3 separate regions of the Homo sapiens genome follow, and regions 2 and 3 are each linked to region 1. Evidence: fine-mapped expression QTL. A gene starts in region 1. Each other region holds a variant in brackets. All regions are shown on one strand. Distances are from middle to middle.

Region 1 (5,225 bases):
TTTAGTAGAGACAGCGTTTTACCATGTTAGCCAGTATGGTCTTGATCTCCTGACCTCGTGATCCGCCCACCTTAGCCTTCCAAAGTGCTGGGATTACAGCCGTAAGCCATCGTGCCTGGCCTTTTTTTTTTTTTTTTAATCTTTTTGAGATGGAGTTTCGCTCTTGTTGTCCAGGCTGGAGTGCAATGGTGTAATCTCCGCTCACTGCAACCTCCACCTCCTGGGTTCAAGAGATTCTCCTGCCTCAGCCTCCTGAGTAGCTGGGATTACAGGCATATGCCACCACACCCAGCTAATTTTGTATTTTTAGTAGAGACAGGGTTTCACCATGTTGGTCAGTCTGGTCTTGAACTCTTGGCCTCAGGCGATCCACCCGCCTCGGCTTCCCAAAGTGCTAGGATTACAGGCGTGATCCACTGCACCCGGACTTACTGGTTGCTTTTCAAAGGTTGTACAGATACTATAAATATATTTAACCAATACTCTATTGAGGAGGAGCCGGAGAGGGTTTCCAGTCTTTTGCTATTGTAAGCAATGCTTAAAAAAATACTCTGGAACATAGGTCATTGTAAGCAATGCTTCAAAAAATACTCTGGAACATAGGTCATTGTAAGCAATGCTTCAAAAAATACTCTGGAACATAGGTCATTATGTATATTTCTGTAAGATAAATTCCTAGAGGTAGGGTTACTGACTTCAAAGGATTTAGACTAAAGGTGCTTAAAGAGAGAGGTTTCACCTGTTAGTTAGTTTTTGTAGCCAAAACTTGAAAACATCCTTTCTTCCTCTTTTTTCGTACCTATCAATCACCAAGTCTTGCTGCTGTTACCTCCTCAATTTGTTTAAATCTGTCCTTCCTTCCCATTCCTCCCAGCCAACAACTCAATTTAGGCTTTTACTATTTCTTCATGTCTGAAATATCGTCCTCAAACCCATTGTCCTGAGAGAATAATCTGCTCGAACACATTCATGTTGCCTACTACATACATCCAGGATTAAGTCTAATGCCTTTGAATACACAAGGTTCACCTTGATCTAGTCCCTGTGCTTCCCTTTCTCTGGTAGACTTCTCCCATCACCAGCTTCACTCTCTTTGCTTTTACACTGTGGAATAATTCATCATTTCAGGCCTCCTTGCTTTTGCTCTGGCTGACTCTCCAGCTTGGAATGCCTTCATCCATTTCCCTTACTTCACCTTTGTGTTCCTGTGCATTCATCTTTCATAGTGATTGCTATTCTCTACTGAAATGAATTTTTTCAAAATAGCCTGCAATTGCAATAGGCAGTACTTTTTTTCTTTCTTTTTAGCTCTAGCATCTATCACAGTGCTTGTGGTCATGGGGTACATACTCAGTAAAATATCTTTTACTGAACTCAACTAGATCTTGGGGGAAAAGGGGTGGAGTCATTCATTCATTCATTCATTCATTCAACATATGTTTATTGAGAAGCTATAAACATAGGCACAAGGTTATGTGCTAGGTAGTGCGATTACAACCAAGAAGATAACCCAGGGCCTACTTTTGGTCTAGTGAAAGAGATGGAATTAGATGGGTATGGTGGTGTGCACCTGTAGTCCCAGCTACTTGGGAGGCTAAGGCATGAGAATCTCTTGAGGCTAGGAGGGAGAGGTTGCAGTGAGCTGTGATGGTAACACTGTACTCCAGCCTGGGTGACAGAAGAAGACCCTATCTAAAAAAAAAAAAAAAAAAAAAAAAAAAGTAGGGCAACATAAATACACAATTTTAATTTAGGTGGGTAAAGACAACAGTGGACCCCAGGGCACAGTTTAGATTATTTTATGGATATGGATAAACAGAGAAAAGGGTGGTTTTTTTTTTTTTTTTTAAATCTATTTTAGAGACTGGGTCTCACTGTGTTGCCCAGGCTGTTTTCAAACTTCTGAGCTCAAGTGATCCTCCCACATCAGCCTCTTGAGTAGATGGATGGCATTTTAATTAGATGAAATTGTACTAGGAAAGGCATTTGCAAAACAAAGTAATTGCCCCAAATCACTATGAAACCCTAAGTCAGGCATAAAACTCACGATTTCTGACCCTTCTTCATGGCCTATTGCCTCCTATTACCTTTACTTTTTCAAGTAAAGATATTCTTCTGGTAAACACATGGTCAAATACAGTGTCTTGGGTAACGAATAGTAAAGTGAGATAACATATGTAGAGAAAGCGGGTGAGAATCCGTACTCCATAAAAGTATTTTCTTTCCATAGGTGTCTGCTAAACTGCCATCTAAGTTTTCCAAAACAAAAAACAAAAACACTTGTGTGGTGCTCAATGATGTATATTAAGTGAAACCTACCAACTGACCTTTATCCTTTCCTTCCTGTTTTTTTAATATTAAAGAAGAGACCTCTTTTCACAAATGATTGAGGAGGCTAGTAAAATGCAGTGAAAAGAGCAAGTTCTTTGGGAGTCAGACAGCATCGGATCCAGCCCAGAGCGCAGCACGACTAGTAGAGTAACTTAGATTAAGTCCTTAAACTTCCAGTGTCCTCTTTTGTAAACTGGGAATAATAATAATAATAAATAAATAGTGAATAATATTTATGCAAAGTACTTAGCACAGTGTCTAACACATAAAAGCTTAGGAGAAGTTGGCTATTAAGCATTTCTAGGAACCCGAGGACTCAGGGTTGTTATTTTAGTTCTTGGAATCAAAGGAACTTGAAGCGTAGTCATTCCTAAACTAAGTTAAACCAGAACTAGCGCTTTCAGCAATGATGTAATTTGATCTCTTCGGGCCACCGTCGCTGAGCATGCGCAAATAAACGTGGCGGGACGTATGTGTCATGGCGCTCTCCATCTAAAGTCTGTGCAGCTTCCGGAGAGTGGCGGGTTGATTTTCTCACTTTGGACTGGTTTTTACTTCCCGACTTCTGGGTAAGGGTGGCCGATGGGTCCATGTGGGGCAGAGTGTGGCCACAGCTCCTTTTATGGCCAAGCCTTGTTTCTCCAGTTTCAGTTTTTCTTGGGCTGTTTGCAAATTTGTTTCGCAGTTAAAAGGGGATTTGCCAGCTGGGATGGGGGAATTGGGAGGCAGATGGGGCTTCCAGGAGCGAGGATAGGGTCGTTGGCCTCAGGTGCCGCTCTCCAGTTAGGAGTATTTTAGGCACCTCGTTCCTTATTGTCAGGTTTAACTTCATTTGTTCTCCCACTTTATACCTTAGTGAATTTGTAGATGTGACAAGGCTTTCGCAGTTATATAGCTTTCCCAGATCAGTATGTTAAGAATTTAAGCAGAAGTTATTGAGAAAAGCAGGTGTCTTGCTTTTTCACTTTTCGTTCTTCTTTGCTCATAAAACCTTTTTCTGAATCTCGGGACGACAGTTATCTTTCGGATGGAACGTGATCTGGATGTCTATCTACCTTATTGACTTAATCCTGTTTTGTAGTGGTTGGTTACTCGCACTATGCAGACGTGTTGCGGTGCTGAATACAACATTTATTACTAAAGCCAGACACTGGATCACCGTCACGGCAGATGTCAGCACACCTGTTGTAATCAGTAAGAAGTTACAAGTAGTATGGAGCATCATTAATCCTGCTGTATAAAGCAGTCTTTTATGGAGTCTGATTCCTTTTAAGTAAAGAATCCTTACAGTGGTTTTGTGAACTTTTTGGGTGCTTACTTTTCCTAATCAATTTTTATTTTCCAGACTCATCTTTCAAGAGGACTTTAGACTAATTGCAGATAATTAAGGTACTGATTTATTTTAAACCTTTTATGTTTGAGTGCTGTGCGTATTTCTGCATGTTAGAAAATGCAGAGAGGTAGCCTAATGTTTTAGCTATTTGCCACTATCATGTTATGGAAACATTGTGCTTTACATAGCATTAAATCGAAGAGATATTTTCATTTATTTTACTTAACCTTTCATTTTCATTCACCAGCATTGACCATGTCCACTTTTTTGAGATGCCCTTTTCATTTGCCTTCCATGGCCCATGGATTTTTTTCCTTGTCTGGTGGCTGCTTCTTGGAATCCATTATAAGCTGATTTTCCTTTATCTGGCAGTTAAATTTGGAGTCTCTCAAGTCGTGGTCTTGTACCTTCTCCTACCTCTGTTCTCTTTTTCTTCCCCTCTGGGTGATGTAATCCACATGCCTGTCAACAGTTATTTGTCTTTTTGATTCTACCCATCCTAATGGGTATGAAGTGGTGTATTATTGTGGTTTGGATTTCCATTTCCCTGATGGCTCATGATGTTGACATCTTTTCATGTGCTTATCAGCCATTTGTATGTGTGTGTTTTTGAGACACGGCTTCCCTATGCCACCCAGGCCAGAGTGCAGTGGCTCGATTACGGCTCACTGCAGCCTTGACCACCTGGTCTCAAGTGATCCCACTTCAGCCTCCCAAGTAGCTGGGACTACAGGTGCATGCCACCATGCCCGGCTAAATTTTACTTTTTTTTTTTTTTTTGTAGCGATAGGGTCCGTGTTGCCTAGGCTCTGGCCTTGTACTCCTGGCCTGAAGTGATCCTGCCACCTTGGCTTCCCAGTGTTGGGATTATAGGCATGAGCCTCTGCACCTGGCCCATTTCTGTATCTTCTTCATCTAATCTGTTTTTCCTTTTGTTGCTTGTGCTTTTCATTTCTTAGCTAAGAAAGAAGGGCCTACTCTAACATCATAAAGATTTGTGCTTATGTTTTTTTCTAAGAGTTTCATAATGTTAGCTCCTAAATTTAGGTCTATGATCCATTTTCGGTTAATTTTTGTATATGATGTGAAATGTGAAATAGGGCTCCAACTTTATTTTTTACATGTTGCTATCCAGTTATCCCAGTGTCATTTGTTGAAAAAAAAACTACGCTTTCCCCCTTGAATTGTCTAGGTTATGTATATTTGACATACATTCTAGGTGGTTTTTATGAAAGAATAATTCTGGGACAGTGATTATCAAACTTTAATTCAGATCAAAATCACCTAGAGGGCCTGTTAAATATTGCTAGGTTTTACTCAAAATATCTGATTTAGTATGTCTGGAGTGGAGTTCAAGAATTTTCATTTCTGGCTGGGCATGGTGGCTCATGCCTGTAATCCCATACTTTAGGGGCCAAGATGGGAGGAGTTTGAGACCAGCCTGGACAACAAAGCGAGACCTTGTTTTTACAAAAAAACTGAAAAAGAAAAAATGTTCATTTCTAACAAGTTCCCCATGATGCTACTCCAGCTGATGTGGAAACTACACTTTGAAAACCAC
Region 2 (5,225 bases), 700 kb after region 1:
TTCAATGAACAGGAAAGCGACATCTCCATTCTCCAAGGGCAATAATTTGTACTGGTCATGCTGCCTCCTTCTCAGCCACTCTTCTTAATGAGGCTCCCCCTGTCTCACATTGAGTTGGGCCCATTGGTTATTTGACCTAAAACCTAATCACCGCTACCATAGCACATCCTTCAAATTAAACTGCTTTTGGTTTACTTTTAGCAAGAAATGCAAGCGGTTGCATTTTTTTCTGTTTGTTTCAATCTCTAATCTTTAAGTCAGAACCTAATTGTACAGTGGCTCTGGCCATCTTTTCCTCATGTGGAAGAATTTTCTATCTTTAATAAACTTTTTCTTTGTTTTTTTTTTCCAGATGGAGTTTCGCTCTTGTCCCCCAGGCTGGAGTGGTGCAGTGGCACGATCTCAGGTCACTGCAACCTCTGCCTCCTGGGTTCAAACGATTCTCCTGCCTCAGCCTCCCAAGTAGCTGGGATTACAGGCATGCGCCACCAAGCCCAGACAATTTTTTTGTGTTTTCAGTAGAGACGGAGTTTCACCATGTTGGCCAGGCTAGTCTCGAACTCCTGACCTCAAGTGATCCGCCCGCCTCGGCCTCCCAAAGTGCTAGGATTACAGGCGTGAGCCACTGCGCCCGGCCTCTTTAATAAATATTTTTAAGTGCATCTTCCCCTTCAGGCTTTGTTTGGAGTCCCAGTGCTACAAACATTGTATTTTTCACAGCAGATGTGTTCCTGAAAAGTGTATAGAAACCTGTTCTGGGAACCTGAATGCTTTTGGAATGCACGGGGAGAGTCTGCCAGCTAAAGGACTCCTGGCAACATTCTGTGAAATATGAAACTGGAAAACTGGATTTGTCGAAAACTAATTGTGCCCATTTTCTCACATTTTTGATCCATTGGGGTTTTTTTTTTGTTTTTGTTTTTTTTTTTTTTTGAGTCAAGGTCTCACTCTGTCACCCTGGCTGGAGTGCAATGGCACTATCTTGGCTCACTGCAGCCTTGACCTCCTGGACTCAAGCAGTCCTCCTACCTCAGCCTCCCTAATAGCCAGGGGCTACAGGCATATACCACCATGCCCAACTAATTTTTTAATTTTTTGTAGAGATGAGTGTCACTATGTTGCCCAGGCTTGCCTGGAACTCCTAGCCTCAAGCAGTCTTCTTGCCTCAGCCTCCCAAAGTGCTGGGATTACAGGCGTGAGCCACTCCACCCAGCCCAGATTAAATGTTTTTATTTCTACCTGCCATCATTGGTCTTTACTAAGTGAAGTGACTTCTTTCTTTAACAATAAATAGAATTGGTATACTAAGCAAATCCTATGTTTTTGAGAATTTATTTGGATTGCATAGGTACAGGAAAACCAGGTACCGTGTAGTTACCATAGGATATTTTCCATCTCGAAACCCATACCCCTCTTCAGCTCTTACATTTAACTCAAAATGTTTGTGTTTTGTGTGTCTTTTAAGGAACCCAAATTAAAATTCAGTCATGTCCTAGTTGGTAAATTATAAAATATATATGCTTTTAGTGTTAGTACATTTCTCCTGGAACTGGTATGTGCTTCTAAGAGGTGCTCACATTTAGAATGCAAAAATCCTCCTGTGCTGCTTCTAGTCCTGCAGTGAAACATCCACTTGGGAGCACCCCTCACTTCTTAGCAGGAATGAGAAGAGGACAAGAACCTACCATGTGCCTCCCTTCTTGAGCTCTACGCAGTCATTTCTTTGTTAATAAACAGTGGGTTCCAGTGTGGTGCTCATTTAACAAAAACCTAGCAGAGATAAAAATGCCATCCAAAGCCTAGAGTTGCACTAGATCAGACATAGAGAAAGCTTTACACCTGTAACTGATTGGAGACAAAAAGGATTTTTTCTACCTCCCTTTTCTCTTTCCCTACTCTTTTCCTCACTCCCTCATCTGTTTATTTCCTCCCTTCTAGCTCTATGCTGTCCTCGCCTTTTTTCATTTTTTTCTTCCTGTAAGAGAATGATACACCCAGTCATCCAAATTCCCCCCCTGCTGCTCTCACCTACCATGGCAGGGATCCTCAAGGATCGTTTCAGCTGTACAGGATTCTCCCTACTTCCTGCTGTGACTGTTATTTACCCTCAATTTGGCTGCAGCTTCACTCTGCCGTTTGACCCAGAAAGGGACCGAGGTCACTGCCCGCAGCAGACGCTGGACCTTCATGAAATCAGTCTCCATACTGGCGACCAATTGGTGAGAGGGGTAGCAGTGTTCTGGAAATCCAGGGTTTTTCTTCCCCCTGTGACCTCCATCTCTAGGGAGGGGGAGGGAGAGAGCAGAGAAGGATGCAGTGCAAGTTAAAAACAGTTTTCTTAAGCCCTGGACTCTGAATGGGGCTGAGTCTGGGAACCACGGGAGCAAGTGTGATCATGAGTAGAGCTGTTACTTTTCCAGCCTGTCTCCTTCCTGCCCACAGTGCAACTGCGCTTCTCCCGCCCCGCTGAAGTTAGGCACGAAATGTGAAATGTGAGCGGAAGGGTCACGTCCTTCTTCGGGGCAGACATGTTCAGAGCTGGTGTACGGTTTACTGTGTGCTCTTCCCACTGCTGTGGTGATCCTGGACCCATATGTCAGAATGACGCCTCCCCGACCCTGGGTCCCTGAGTTAGTACAGTTGAGTAGGGCTCCTGGCCAGCATGTGCTACATAGGCATCAGGAACCAGAAATATATTGTGGTTGTGTTAA[G/T]CCACCGGCATCTGGGGGTCGTAGCCGTAGCATTCGTAACCTGATTTATACGAAGTGTCAGCCGTGATAGGATGCTTGACCCGCAGATTGTAAATGTAATTGTTATGTTTTCTTTGTATGCTTTTGTATGCTTTGCATTAGTATCAAGGGGTGTGTGTGTGTGTGTGTGTGTGTGTGTGTGTGTGTGTACTTCTCTGCTGAGAAGGAAACCTATGAAGTGATCTTTTCAATGCTTTGGCCAATTTTTTTCTTAAACTCTTTACTAGAATAAAACATACATATGAAATGGACATAAATCATAGGGATACAGGGATTTTTAAAAACTGAGCAAGCATTGTAGCCAGCACCAGGAGGCTCCCCATGTACCCTCCTAGCCATTAAGTCTGCCCCGCAAGGAGTAACCAGTATCCTTATTTCTAACATTACAGATTGATTTGCCTGATTCTAAACTTTCTATAAGTGGAATCATGTAGTATGCACTATTTCATGTCTACCTTCTTTTGTTCTACAGTGATTGTGAGACACATCCAGATTATTGTGTGAGCAGTAATTACTTCACGTTCATTGCTGAATAGTATTTCAGTGTATGAGTACACCACATTGTTCATTCTACATTTGAGTTCTTTCCAATTTTTTGTCTATTATGAATAATGCTGCTATAAACACGTTTTGTTAAGTGTTTATGTGATGATGTGAGGAGTACATGTCTAGGGGTGGAATTGCTGGGTCATAGCATTTGCATATGTTCAGCTTAGATACTGCTAAATGGTTTTCTGAAGTGGTTGTACCAATTTACATCCCCACCAGCAGTTGACATGAATTCTGTCATTCTCCCACTATTTTTTCTCTTTGGACCTTAGATATTCTTCAGCAGACCTTGTCTCTGCTGTCTCCCTTCCACAAGTCATTCCTATTTTAATAGTAATGATAATATTGACAACCATTAACTGTCTAGTCCTTAAATGAAATGCACTGGATGTTATACTTTGCACTTAACAGGTGTTAATCAGTCCTGAAGAAAAAATTTTGAGATACGTATTGTGATTCCCATCATACTGAGAAGAAAATCTAAAACTCAAAAGACTAAGTAACTTGTGCAAGAGGCACAGAGCTCTTAAGTTTAGAGGCAGGACTGGTACACAGCCTGACTCCAAAGCATATACTCCTCTTCTGTAAACTCCTCCTGCTCCTCTGTCCCATCTTTGACTTAAACTTGACCTGTGCCAACAGATACACATTTAGGATCAATCCTGTGGATGCCTGAGCTTGGGGGCCTTCAGCCTTTCAGTCTGTGTTGTCCTGCTCCAAGAATGTGCATGGTACTTGATATACTTTTTAAATAAAGATTTACTAATCAAGCTTTTTTCTTTGCCCTGCCCCCTCCTTCCTTCCTTCTTTCTTTCCCTCCTTTCTATTGTCCCTGCTTCATCTTATCATCCCTGCTTCCTTTCTTATCATCCCAGCATGAGATAGTCAGTTTGAGAATGTAAAGAATTCTTGGGTTAAAACTTTGCTTTGTTGCTGGGAAAATGTGTCTAAACATCAGATTTCCATATGTCATTCAGTCAAAACATATACTACTTCTACTGACTTCACTCCAGGTTGAAAATTTCAGTGTATATTGTAAGATGTCATGGAGGGAGAATTAGAGTTACAAATCAAGCTTCAAGAGGGTTTGTCATCATAAAACAAACATAGGAAAAAAATGAAGAGAGAGAGGGAGGGAAGAGAAGAAAGGAGGGGAGAGAAAAGGAAGAAAAAGAAAAGGAGAAAAGATATTCTTAAGGCTTGCAGCAACAACAAAAAAGGTAATCATATGAGATGATGGGTATGGTAATTCACTTGACTGTAGCCACCATTTTGCTGTGTATATGTGTATCAATACATGTTCACCTTAAATACTCACAATAAAAAATGAATATGTACGTTTTCTAAAAGGTTTGCTGGTCCCCCCAGGCACCCCAGGATGCTGTGGCACATTCACAGGAGCACCCTGGGATTCCTTAAATTTTTGGAGGGAACACAGCAACATCTGTCAGATACCAGGCCAACTACCAGCTCAAAATAGTTCACAGTTTTCAACGTTAGATTTCACAAATTTTGATGACACCATGTCTTTATAAAACTGGATTTTCAGCAATTGCTGTGATAAAAAGCAAGTATCAAGTGAAAATCAATGTGGAACAAGAAGTGAAAATTGTGATCATAGTCCAAGGTTTGAGAAGGGGTGCTGTACCCAACAGATGCACAGCTGCCATTAATAAGTAAAATTAATATGAAATAAAATATTAATATTTTTATCTAAGTTACATGTATTATTTTTTCAAACGGTTCTCATAAGATAGTAGGATATAAATGCTTATTCAGTTGTCAGGATTACCTATTTAAACAGAAGGTTAGCTGCTGCTTTTGGCCTAGGGGTACAAACAATCAAGAAAGTTTGAAAACCTCTGCTCTATGATACAACCTAATTTAAAGGATCCATGTCAAACTTATAATCTGGAGTCCTAATCC
Region 3 (5,225 bases), 670 kb after region 1:
AAGGCCATCCCTAGGGGCGCCCCCAATTACTAGCCCTCCTTCCCTGGCCATCTAAGTTGGCCTGCCTTTGCCCACCGAGGAGCCTGACTTCTGTTTCAGCATCAGGGTTTCTACTCCTCCAGGTGGGAGAGCAATTCAAAAGTGACTGAGGAAAAGAGAGTGCCTCTTTCAGGGTCATTGACCCTGGCAAGGGCCAAGGCCAGGGAAGAGATGGGATACGCCCTCCTCTCCCATCTTATGGTAGCCTGTGTCTCCCATCTCATGATAGCCTGTGTGGGAGACTGTCATGGGCGTACGGAGATTTTCACTGATCATTCTGGATTGTATTAAAATCAAATGGAGCTTCCTACTTTTTTGCTTCTTTCTTATCAGATAAGAGGTGAAAATGTTTGCTATGGATCATGGCTGGAATTAGAGCTTGAGAAGATGCTGAAGGCCAAGGTGGACAAGTCGGATGAGGGATGGGCAGAGGAAGCAGGCTGCCTGTGTCAGAAGGCAGGAAAGCAGGAGCTGAAGAGGCCCCCAGCATTGACATTCCCCAGGGAATCATCTCAGACTGGGCAGTGCGTCCCCAGGAAACAGGGGAGCTTTTCAAAGCCCAGACTAAACGTGCTCTGTTCAGTACCGGTGGAGACTGCAGTTGAGGAAGGGCTCCCAGCACTCCATGTCTGGCCTGCATCGCTTCCCCATTTCCCCATCTCATTAATATACCCCAGAGGGCCATTTTCCTATTCAGGCCAACCTTCTGCTCAGCCCTGGGGAGGAGCTTGATTGCATTTTGGTTGCCTCTTCTCTCTCCTTTCTCTTGCCATCTGGGTTTTGCCTCAGCAGGGAACTTTTTTCCCTTCATTTTAAAGGCAGTGGCATGCCTCGTTAGCTGCTTCCTCCAATTTAAAGCAGTCGGGCTTTTTCCAATTATTAAAACTGGAGGAGGGGAAAACACTGAGCCCTTCATTCAGATCAAGGCAGCAGATCAAGGAGGGTTATTTTTCCCCAGAATAGTACCAAATCTCCCAGGGTTAGTTTGGTCTAGAGATTTTCTTATTTTATAAAAACTGATTTAAATGGGCTTTTTATATCCTAACACTAAAGCTCTTTTAGTTCTTTTTGCCTGCCCTAAGTAATTCACCACCCAGGTGACCTTTTTCTTCTACTTTGATGAAGCAGTGTACTCAGTGGTCATAAAAATCAAACTCAGACCAAGATTCAATTTTGCCTTTCAGAGAGATTGGCTGTGGAACTCCTGGCTCTCATCTGACTTTTCTGTCTCTATAACTAAGCATATCAAAGATTTTCTAGGAATTATTTTTCTAAATAAGATGAGTTCCAGAGATGAAGATTGTATCTAGATATCCAAGTATTACTGGATTAGAACTGGTCTATTTATTTTGGATTCTAACTTGAAAAGACTGGCAAGTCGCTGCAGTGCTAAAATAGAAGTGTAAGGGAGACATCACACACACAAGCTACCTGTGGGTCCCAAAGGAAGGGAAACGTTTGCTTGAAGTAAACAAGTACTTTTATCAGGAATCTCTAGTGGAAAGAGACCACCTGACAGTTTCCTGTGAACAAGCCAAAGTACCCTTCAGAGGACTGGTTCTAGATGGAGGTAGATTCCCAGGACTGACAAACACATGCCTTTTCTAACAGAGCAAGGGAAATGAACGGCAGCTGTTAGTTTCAGGAGTCATTTAGCTCCAAACAGCAGTGTACAGTGTTATTGGAAGGTTCTTTTAAATGTACCTCCTTCTCCCTCAAAACACAGCACACACATGCACGGACACAAACACGCAGGCCTGTTTGAAGTGTCTTTTCAAACCATTACTCTGACAGCTCACTTGGAAAGTATTAAAAGTATAAGGCTTTCATCAGTATTGTCTCGGTTTTCCTCATTGCATGGAATAGCCAAAAGCAAGATATCAAAGGCCTGTCCAGAAGTGGCTGGCTGATTGCTGGGGGATTTCCCAGGTCTGCCTTCCACGTGCCTCAGGACATCAGGCACATCCTGCACTGGAAAAGCACTGCCCAGGGGCCCAGGAGCCCCTCCCAGGAGTGCCTTTCCTTCCTGCAGGCTCTGCAGACCCTTGAGCAGCTAGAAGATAGAGTCCACTTTGTAGGGGATCCCAGAACAGAAAAATGACATTGAGGGACAATGAGGAAACCTGGATAATTAGGTATGCCTTCGGTTAATAATATTAATATATCAATTTGGGTTCATTAATTGTGGCAAAAGTGCTATACTAATGTAAGACGGTAAATAATAAGAAAACTGGGAGTTAGGTATACAGGAGCTCTCCATACTATCTTTGCAATAATTCTATAAATCTGAAACTGTTCTAAAGTAAAATGTTTATTTTTAAAAATTAAGCCTCTGAAACAAATGTGTTTAAGGTTTTAGTGCCAAAGAACCCTGCGTTCATGGGGAAGATGGTTGAAGTGGACATCTATGAATCAGGCAAACATTTTATGAAAGGGCAGCCAGTATCTGATGCCAAAGTGTACACGCCCTCCATCAGCAAACCGCTAGCAAAGGGAGAAGTCTC[G/A]GGTTTGACAAAGGTAAGTAAAAGATGCTCTCCTCTCTACCCTGCTAGTAAAACAGCAGCTGTGGAAGCACAGTGATTCCAGGCCATGTTTCTGTTATCATTTATAGTTCCCTTTTTATGTATGCATGAGGCTTTAATCCTTTCTGACAGATTGAAATCTGAATTAGAAAGATGTGTTTTTGCTGATGCCGATAGCTTTGCTTCTCTGGCTGTAAAGAGAATAAGCTCTTTCTGCTTCCAGTTTAGAAGCAGGGGGTAAAAGCCATTATTTGCAGGTGAAAATGTTGACACCAAAAGATGATCTGATCCAGTATGTTTCTATGTCAGTAGATCCTGAGTGGAAGGGGATGAAGAAAGGGGTGTTTTCTTGCTTTACAAAGCTGTTTATACTGTAGTAAAAACCTACAGCTGAACAGGCACTAAACCATATCATATATGCAGTTATGGTGCCTTTCAGAAGGGTGTTAGCTGGATATCTACTTTAGTCATGTGGAGTGAAAATTAAACATTTTTTTCTTTCTATAAAAAAGTAACCTGACCCCTATTTTATACCTTGGTAAATATGGCCGTTTGCCAAGCTCTCTCACATTTCATTGAGCTACAGTTGTAAAAGCTGATGGAGTGTGAAATGAAAATGTGTATCACATTTCTAAGCATCATTTGATGTCCTTTCTCCAACACAATTGTTAAGCGCTTAAAAAAAAAAAGCATATAACAGTGATTTAACATATGGAAAAAAATAACTGATATTTATCTGGCCATGTAATTCCGAAATTGTTTTAATCTGTGCATAATCTTGTTCCTCAAAATAAATTGCAAGGACATGTTCGTTAAAATAAAGGGAATACCGCTTCACTCTGGCAATAGTACCGCTTCACTCTGGCAATAGCAACAAAGACAATACTATTGTCTGTGTTCTCACTGACTGTGGCACTGGATTCTTGTGTCCGACAGCAGTGATAATTCACATGTGCTTCACAAGTGCCCATGAAGGATCTGCGTGCATGGCCGTCTAACCCGTACTGGAATGGTATAGACCAGCTTTTGTTAAAATCCTACCAAATGCATCAGCCTGCATGATCAGGAGATAACTCTAAAACTTGATAAACATAACCATTCATTTTTGCTGTTTATTAAAAAAAAAAAAATTGTACTTGGGGGATAGTATGGGTGGCCAGGAAGGAGCAGTGTAACCTGGCATTTAAATTATATTGCTAGAGATTTGGCTTTTGATATGTTAGCCAATACTTTGAAAAATTTTTTAAGAAGTCAGCTTATTTTTTGTTTTGTTTTGTTTTTCCACATAGTGTGTTTTACAAGGTTAATTTTAGATTGCCACAGTGAAAAGGGTTTCTCAGCAAGTAGCAGTAGTGGGGAAATTATTATTTCAAAGACTCTGCCTGGTTTAATTCCTTCATGTTTGCCTCTTGGAAAGGGAGTATTGTAAACATCACCATTGATAATACATAAACAAGGAAATGTAGTGTCCCTCTATTCGTTCCTTAACTATAGTGTTACTGTCTAAAAGGGCAGTTCCGTTTAAATTCTCTGGGGCACCCTTTCTACTCTCCCATCCTTTCCTCTAGCCTAGAAAATGGTGTTATCAGTTCTACCACCAGCCCAGCTCTGAACCAGAATGGCCCAAAAGTCCCGGATAAGATGAGGAAGCCAGTTGGTTGCTGGTCTGTTAGAGCCTCTAGAAATAGTGTTGTAGCATGAGGCCAGTGGGGTAGGAATATTGATTTGGGTATTTACATTAAGAGAAACAGTAAGGCTTTTGTTGGTTCTTGTTTGTTTGTTTGTTTTGAGAGAGGGTCTCCCTCTGTCACCCAGGCTGGAGTGCAATGGTGTGATCACAGCTCATTGCAAACTCTGCCTCCTGGGCGCAAGCAATCGTCCCACATCAGCTTCCTGAGTAGCTGGGACTATAGGCATGCACCACCATCCTGGCTAATTTTTTTTTTTTTTTTTTTTTTTTTTTTTTTTTTTTTGAGTCAGAGTCTCACTCTGTTGCCCAGCCTGGAGTGCAGTGGCATGCAGTGTCAGCTCACTGCAGCCTCCACCCCCCAAGTTCAAGCAATTCTCATGCCTCAGCCTCCTGAGTAGCTGGAATTACAGGCATGTGCCACTACGCCCGGCTAATTTTTTATTTTTAGTAGAGACAGGGTTTCACCATGTCGGCCAGGCTGGTCTCGAACCCCTGACCTCAGGTGATCCGCCCACTTCAGCTTCCCAAAGTGCTGGAATTACAGACATGAGCCACTGTGCTCGGCCCCAGCTGATACTGTTTATTTTTTCTAGAGACAGGATCTCGCTTTGTTGCCCAAGTTCGTCTTGAACTCCAGGCCTCAAACGGTCCTCCCACCTTGGTCTCCCTGGCATCTAAAGCAAAATACTGTGCTTTGGACTTATTTTGTCTCACTTGACCTCTTTTTTTTTTTTTTTTTTTTTTTTTTCCTGAAATGAAGTTTTGCTTGTCGCCCAGGCTGGAGTGCAATAGCATGATCTCACTGCAACCTCCACCTTCCAGGTTCAAGCGATTCTCCTGCCTCAGCCTCCCGAGTAGCTGGGATTACAGGCGTGCGCCACCACACCCGGCTAATCACTTGACCTCTTTTGATGAAATTGATGAGAGGTACAACAGATTAGAAGGGTGTTATCAAAATGATGGTGGGAATGGGT

What was found.
Region 2: its variant is fine-mapped to the expression of CDKAL1 in whole blood (TOPMed, PIP above 0.99). The same link has a PIP of 0.9 or more in monocytes.
Region 3: its variant is fine-mapped to the expression of CDKAL1 in tibial artery (GTEx, PIP 0.94).

Annotation. Positions count from the first base shown.
Region 1 is chr6:20,531,675-20,536,899 of GRCh38, forward strand. CDKAL1 (CDKAL1 threonylcarbamoyladenosine tRNA methylthiotransferase) reads left to right here and starts at 2,783. Exons shown (of 16, transcript NM_017774.3): 1 at 2,783-2,900; 2 at 3,677-3,720. RefSeq lists enhancers at 2,712-2,871, 2,902-2,981.
Region 2 is chr6:21,231,092-21,236,316 of GRCh38, forward strand. It overlaps CDKAL1 (CDKAL1 threonylcarbamoyladenosine tRNA methylthiotransferase), which reads left to right. Exons shown (of 16, transcript NM_017774.3): 16 at 1-1,313. Among named protein-coding and RNA genes, the nearest start is that of LINC00581, 280 kb to the right of the region's middle. RefSeq lists an enhancer at 1-329. The variant G/T (reference allele first, on the strand shown) is at 2,712.
Region 3 is chr6:21,198,719-21,203,943 of GRCh38, forward strand. CDKAL1 (CDKAL1 threonylcarbamoyladenosine tRNA methylthiotransferase) reads left to right here. Exons shown (of 16, transcript NM_017774.3): 15 at 2,392-2,556. Among named protein-coding and RNA genes, the nearest start is that of LINC00581, 310 kb to the right of the region's middle. The variant G/A (reference allele first, on the strand shown) is at 2,544.